Linked DNA regions of Homo sapiens. The protein of the gene in region 1 purifies or fractionates together with the protein of each later gene. This does not show direct contact. Each region holds a gene or a part of one and is shown in the gene's direction. Other genes may lie near its edges.

What was found. The genes of interacting proteins can lie anywhere in the genome.
Region 2: the proteins of SLC17A2 (region 1) and ATP11C purify together in Homo sapiens (affinity purification with mass spectrometry; 2 studies listed by BioGRID and IntAct, with this or other methods). This does not show direct contact.

The regions. Positions count from the first base shown.
Region 1 is NC_000006.12:25,928,556-25,932,309, reverse strand, and holds the start of SLC17A2 (sodium-dependent phosphate transport protein 3), read left to right. Parts: upstream 1-1,618; 5' UTR 1,619-2,033; intron 2,034-3,754. UniProt on the Homo sapiens protein: Acts as a membrane potential-dependent organic anion transporter, the transport requires a low concentration of chloride ions. Mediates chloride-dependent transport of urate. Can actively transport inorganic phosphate into cells via Na(+) cotransport.
Region 2 is NC_000023.11:139,783,043-139,786,696, reverse strand, and holds part of ATP11C (phospholipid-transporting ATPase IG), read left to right. Parts: intron 1-1,397; coding exon 1,398-1,471; intron 1,472-3,429; coding exon 3,430-3,533; intron 3,534-3,654. UniProt on the Homo sapiens protein: Catalytic component of a P4-ATPase flippase complex which catalyzes the hydrolysis of ATP coupled to the transport of aminophospholipids, phosphatidylserines (PS) and phosphatidylethanolamines (PE), from the outer to the inner leaflet of the plasma membrane.

The DNA.
Region 1 (3,754 bases):
GCTCACTGCAGCCTTGAACTCCAGGGCTCAAGCAATCCTCCTGAGTAGCTGGGACTATAGGCATGTGCCACAACATCAAGCTAATTTTTGCATTTTTTTGTGGAGACGGGATCTCCCTATGTTGCTAAGGCTGGTCTTGGATTCCTGGGCTTATGCGATTCTCCTGCCTCAGCCTCCCAAAGTCCTGGGATTACAGGCATGAGCCACTGCCCCTGGCCATTATAACTATTTTCATTGGCTTATCAGGCACATGATAACTATAATAAATCAATAACCAGAATTTTTAAATAAAGAAAGGAAGGAATTGTTTCAACTCTTCCTGCTACCCCTCTATCCCTCAAAAGGGTAGGCTGAATGTTGTCCTCCAAAGATATCCATGTCCTAATCCCCAGAACCTGTAAATATATTACCTTATATGACAAAAGGGACTTTACATGTTTAATAAGTTAAGAATTTTGAGATGGGCAGATTTTCCTGAATTTTGCAGATGGGCCCTAGTGTAATCACAAGGGTCCTTATAAGAGACAGGCAGAAGAGTCAGAATAAGAGAAAAATACTTCAAGATGTTACACTGCTGGCTTTAAGGTGGAGGAAAGGCCAAGAGCCAAAAAATGCAGTGGTCACTACAAGCTGAAAAGAAAAAGAAATGGATTTTCCCCTAAAGCCTCTGGAGGGGGCACAACCTTGCCAATACCTTGATTTTGGCTCAGTGAAACCCATTTTGGACTTCTGACCTTTAGAATTGTAAATAAATAAATAATTTTGTGTTGTTTCAAGCCATCACAGTTGTGGTAATTTACTACAACAGCAATAAAATAGAATTAAATACAGAGATCTGAGGAGTTGAGTAGGATAAGCCTACTCCAGCAGGTTATTTCGGGAGTATGGTGAGACTCACTAGGATGGCGGAACTCAATTAAGGAAGTCTGAAGCTGATAAGCCAGAGAGGGAAGGCTCTCATTTCATTTTATAAGGGTTGCGTCACACTAGGAAGATCCAATAGCAACCACAGTCTCAAAATTAATGATTACAAATAGGACACAATTCCAAGAGTCGGGAGCCAAGCAGAAAATGGATTAGGGAAGACATGGATGATATGAAACAGGAAGGAGGGGTACAAGGCAGCTTCCTGGGAAGTTGCCAGGGCAGTCACAGTTCACATTCATTAGGCTGTGGGCACCAAATGCATATGGAAAATCTAGCTGACTTAACTGAACTCCTGAAGAGGAATGAACACCTCATTTATTGAGGAGCTACTACCAATTAGAATATGTATTTCATTTGTTCAATAACCCCATGAGTACAGTAACACAATCCTTGCTTTACTAAAGCGGAAGCCAATTCAAAGAGGTTCAGTGACTTGTCCAAGCTCAGGGAAAACACTAGGAAGTGAATATGGGTCTGACTCCATCACTGATTTCAGGAGCCCTGCCCTTTCCTCCACACCATGCCCCCTTGCTTTCAGAAAAAAAGGCTTGTTGACTGAATGGTTGTATGCACAGTTCAAAGCAGAAACACACGATGACATCTTTTGAGATACTCTAACAGTGAGAACTTGAAAATGAAGTTAAAAATTAAGCGGCAAAACCAAGCCGAGGCTTTCTGAGAAAGTGGGGCCAAACCTGTTGCCGTCTGACTGCCACGTGGCTCACTATTTATCCCTGTAAAAATCTGCAAAAGTATTTGAAAGGGAAGAAGGGACAGAAAACTCCCTCCTTTTCCAAGTTAGCCTTATAGTCTAGGGCTTAAAATACTGGTTTAATGGTGAAGGTAAGTGCTTTTCTTCTTTTTGGGTAGAAGGATTATTACTAACTTACCAAAGGTCCATTAAGGGGAGGGAACAGTTTTAGGAGAAGTCAGAGAAAAGACATTAACAGCAACATAAGGATCTCCATCTGGTAATATTGCCTAATTCCAAAATGAAGAGACTCTCTGAAAAAGATAACTGATTCAATGAAGACCCTAGGGCAAGGCTTGAGAAGCCACTGGTACCAATGGACACTGTGGACAATGGTCATTTCTCCAAGGACGCTGTGAGTATTAACTGTGATGCTGTGATTAGTCAGACTGGGATTGGCTGTGGAATGAAATACTGATCAGAACTGACAAGATTTGTGTTTGGGACTGTGGCTAACGAGTCTTTTCAGACTTCTATATGAATTTGAAATGGTCTCTCAGGAAAAGGAGAACATGGCCGGGCCTGGTGGCTCACGCCTGTAATCCCAGCACTTTGGCAGGCTGAGGCGGGCAGATCACTTGAGGTCAGGAGTTTGAGACCAGCCTGGCCAACATGGTGAAACCCTGTCTCCACTAAAAATACAAAAATTAGCAGGGCGTAGCGGCGCGTGCACCTATGCGCATGCATAGTGCGCGTGCCAGCTATTCAGAAGGCTGAGGCAGGAGAATTGCTTGAACCCAGGACGTAGAGGTTGCAGTAGTTGAGATCATACCACTGCACTCCAGCCTAGGTGACAGAGTAAGACTCTGTCTCAAAAAAATAATAATAATAAAAGAAAAGGAGAACATGACCAAAGTTATGAATAAGACTGAAGGCAAGAAAATTGTACGCTTGTAGAGATCACCTAGCTTGTTGCCCTCATTGTACAGCTAAGAAAAGGCACCCAGGGACATTGTGGTCAGCACCAATTTCTCAGAAAGATAGGCAGATGATGAGAGGGCCCTCAGTTTTTCTAACACTGAAGGAATTGCTTCTATGTTTTCTGGTGAACTCCTCCCCACTCATCTTGAGGATTCCAGGCCAGAAGAATCCACTTTAAAAAAGAAACATTTAAAACCAATTTAACAACCAATCAAAGGCACTTTTATAGAAATACATTTCATTTGCTGTAGGCCTGTATTTATGGATCTGAGAGGGCTAGACTGCCAATATTGTGACTGTTTATTATTATTGCTGTTGCTAGTATCTAGAATATTATACAACATATAACACTTTGCAATTTACGAGGCATGTCTCATACTTTTGTTTTCACTCCAAACTGCCCAGTGAAGTAACATTATCCCAATTCTTCCTATGAAACAGTGAAAGCCCTAAGAGTTTTTGAAACTTTACCTGGTTTACTCAATTTGGGAATGGCAGAGCAGAATTCAGTCCTTGAATATCCTCCCACTGCAGGTTCATGCTCTTTGATCTAGGTGTAACATTTACTCTGAGTAAACTAGGACTCTGGGCTAACAGAGATGAAGCAAGACAGGCTGGATATTAGGAGAATCTAAGAGCAATCTAACGACCATTATAATAAAATCATGAGTTCTAGACTTAAAAAAAGGGAAAAACCTGTTTTTTTGCTTATGCGTATACCATAATATTTACATTATTTATTTTTTTCTCAAATTCAACCTATACTGTGTCAAGTAATTTTTTTTAATATAACATTTTCCTTTAACTTAATTTCAATTCATTTTTCTGTGTCTACTTACAACTTTGGCACTAGAATTCACAATTTTTTTTTAGAGGTATATCTCCTTAAAGGGAAGGGTTCTGACACTGTTACATGTTCTCAATTGTTTGCAAATAGGTTAATAATTATTCCAGTGTCTCTAAGTACATATCAACCATGCCAGTGTTCAGCCTCCATAATTTTATTAGCTTCTGTGCTTATTTTGGAAAAACATTTCCCATTACCATGAAAGACCTCAGTTTAGGATGGTTTGGTATGTTAGCCTGATTTCTGCATTCGTCTCATGCAAAGGAAAATAGGAAACGAAGAACTGAAATTACCTATTGATACAAAAT
Region 2 (3,654 bases), on another chromosome or scaffold:
TCCTCTTTTGCCACAAAGACCCTAATGAACAAAGCCACCTTATCTTAATGGTGGATTTTAATTAGGCTCTGTGATTAATTTGAATTTCCTCATCTGAACTTGAAATATAATTATGTTATCTGACTTTCATTCTGGCCCCTAGGATCTCCTGAGACCCATCTCAGAAACCTGTAATATGTTTACAGGTACTTGGGTAATGCACCCTTTTGGAGAGAGATTCATAGAAGCCCAGAGGAAGGTTCTTGGTCTGACTGACAGGGACCCAGGGTCATTGTCAGAGTTTAGATTCTAGCCCATCTGCAACAGTGCCCACATCTGGCCAACAGCAAACCAGATGCCATGTTAGATGTCTTATACATATACTCCCGCAAGACTAATGACCCCCTCACTCCCACCAAAACAAGCTATGTAGTAAATACTTTTTTTAAAAAATACTAGTTGTTTATTTTCAAGGAAATATTTCCTCTCACTTTTTCTAATAACCAACTCTTATTTTAACTCTTCTGTGTCTCTCCATTGATTAGTTCAGCCATCCACACACACATTTGACCAGTCTCATCATGTCATTCCACTGTTTAAACCCTTTTATTGGCTTTCTTTTGCTCTTACAATACAATCCCAAATTCCAGAAATGGCTCACAAAGATGTGTTTCCAGCCCCTGCTTACCTTTCTTGCTTTATCTCTTACTATTCCCCTATTGATGAGTTTTTTGGGCATTGGTGAACTACTTAAAGTCTTCCATGGGCCATGTGCTCTCATGCTGCCGTGCTCATTCCCTCTACTCAGAATGCCATGGCCCCCTTTCTTCATCATATTACCCTTGCAGAACCCAGCTCAGGCATGTCCTCTTCCAGGAAACCTCCTTTCAGATGACTTCCTTCTGTGTTCTTATATCTTCCCTGTAAGTGCCTTTATTACAGTATTTGAGAAACTAGAAGGGTAGTTATCTCATTATGCTCTGTCTCCCTTATCATATGGTGACCCGCATAAGGGAAGGGACTCAGGCAGATTCACCTCTATTCCCCAGCACCTAGCACTGTGCCTGGCACTCCATACATAAATGCTGCTAAAATAATTGGCAGAGTGGGACTGTTTCTAGACCCCTCCAAATATGGCTTGGTGGGACAGCTCTTTATCTTCCATTTTTATGTGGTCATTCTCCTTACCATTTTAAGTAATATACTGAGGGGCTATAAATACCCCTTAACTAACACTGGTGTCCTCTGACAGCATGTTCTATGTTCAGAGAAATTCTGAGACAAAGGAAAGTACCAGTTGTGCACACAACCAGTGCTATCTGTTGATTTAAGATGTTTAAATATCTTAACATATTTCTGTTGTGCTTTATTTTTCTCAGTATATTCTAGGTTTTTTACTTTGCTCATTTCTCTTAAAGATATGAACTTCTTCACACCTTAAACTTTGATGCTGTCCGGCGACGTATGAGTGTAATTGTGAAGACTCAAGAAGGTACATGTCTGAAAAGCTTGAATTTTTCTCTTTGTTGATTTGTAGGCTTATTGGTTGATTCACTCTTTCAGGAAAGAGAATCATTTCATGTAGTAGTGTAGGATTAGTGAAAGTCATGCAAAGCAGTAGCTTTTGCATATGCTTTCATGTATTTTTTTAAGCACAGATGTTCTGTTTACCAAATTGTTAGTGACAGAACCCTTGTTATGACAGGGTGTGCCTTTTCTTGGTAGCAGAACCATATCCCTCTGCCTTGGGTGTTCGAACAGGAACTGAAAGGATGACTTTTATATGGTTCAGGGTACTGACCAGTCTACCAGTAATGTTTACATGCAGCCACCCAGCATAGTTGGATGGTTTGGGATTACTAGCAGCAGAATCCTTGAGTATAGGGAGTTGCTTGTTATCCCTCACTGACCTTCCTGGTTCCCCTACTGCTTGACACTCCCTGGAAACAGGTGAGGTAGAGAGGACTAAGGGCCTGGTTTCTGGGAAATGGCATTGCAGTTTCACTCCAGAGCTCAGGTTCTTTGTTGAGCAGAGTAAAGCTTGCCCTTTGCAGGGGAACTGGTACTGTAATCCTGGGCTCCCTCATGTCTTTGGAGGCACCATGGTGGTTTGCCTTCTGCTCAGATTCTGCAAGACCCATGGGCGAGCAATCCTGCTTTATTCGAAGGCTCTCAGATACGTGTGTGTGTGGTGTGCCGAGGTGGTTTGTTTTCTAAAAATTTTTGATTTATTTCCCAGTAATTTACGTTTTACTATTAAATTTTCTAAATTCCTTAATGTCAGAATGGGAGGATACAGACAGATCCTTGGGGGAACATATCCCACTTAATTCATACTTTGTGGTGTGATTGCAAAGTCATGAAATTGATTTTAATAAGTGACCATGGAGTTTGTTTTGTGAATTTTAAAATACACTTTGGATGTGTAAGAATAAATGAAAAAAAAAACACAACATTTCAAATACTTGCTATTCTTATGTGTGCATGTCCACATGTTCTACAGCAAATGGTGAAATGTCTGTGGAACTGGTCTACAAAGGTCATTGACCTCAGAGCTACACTTTTTAATTTGTTGACCTCGGTTGTTTCCCTTATAAGGATAAAGTGTCTGTCTTAGTGCACAACTGTGAATATTTCCTGGGTGTGTGAAGTGATCTAAAGCTGCAATTATACCAGCATTCTACAAAGCTATTCTCATCAGTAAAAACTATCAAGCCATTGTTTTAGAAGCTAGTTAATATAGTTTATTCAAAATTATTTCAGCTTGTTTGAGCTTGAGCTTTCTTCTTGACATCTGTAGATGCCATATGTGTGCTCTAGGCCATGGCTTCACTGCATTTTTTTTTTTTTAAGACACGGTATTACTCTGTCATCTAGGCTGGAGTGGCAAGATTATAGCTCACTGCAGCCTTGACATCCTGGGCTCAAGCAATCCTTCCACCTCAGCATCCAGCGTAGTTGGGTCTATAGGTGTGTACCACCATGCCTGGCTAATTTTTTAATTTTTAGTAGAGTCAGGGTCTCCCTGTGTTGCCCAGGCTGGTCTTGAACTCCTGAGCTTAAGTGATCCTCCCACTTCAGCCTCCCACAATGCTGGGATTACAGGCATGAGCCACTGCACCTGGCATACATTTTCAGAAGAAATTCAGATGCAGCTCCTTGACACAAGCCCAGCCCTCCATGAATTGGTGGGAGGAAGTATATTTTAACAGAGGTGCCTATTGTAAACTCTGGCTTATTAATTGTGTTCATAATGACCTTGAAGAGGTGGTACATGCCTTTCTGACAGACTGAAGGCCAAGATTTCTCATTCCATTTAGGTGAGTATTGCAAGGTGTGCTCAGAATATACAACACTTGGGTGAGAGAGACCGCTTTAAAAGTTACTCTTACTAAAACCACAATACCAGCCTTAAAATTCTAAGTCAAGTACTATGGTTCTTTATTTTAGGAGACATACTTCTCTTTTGTAAAGGAGCAGACTCGGCAGTTTTTCCCAGAGTGCAAAATCATGAAATTGAGTTAACTAAAGTCCATGTGGAACGTAATGCAATGGTGAGCCTATACTCCTTCCCCCACCAATAAGTAAGCAGAGAAATGTTGAAAATGACTATGTTTATTGGATTTCTGTTTAAATGACAGTTTAAATACATTTTAGCTTATTTTTGTGGTCTAT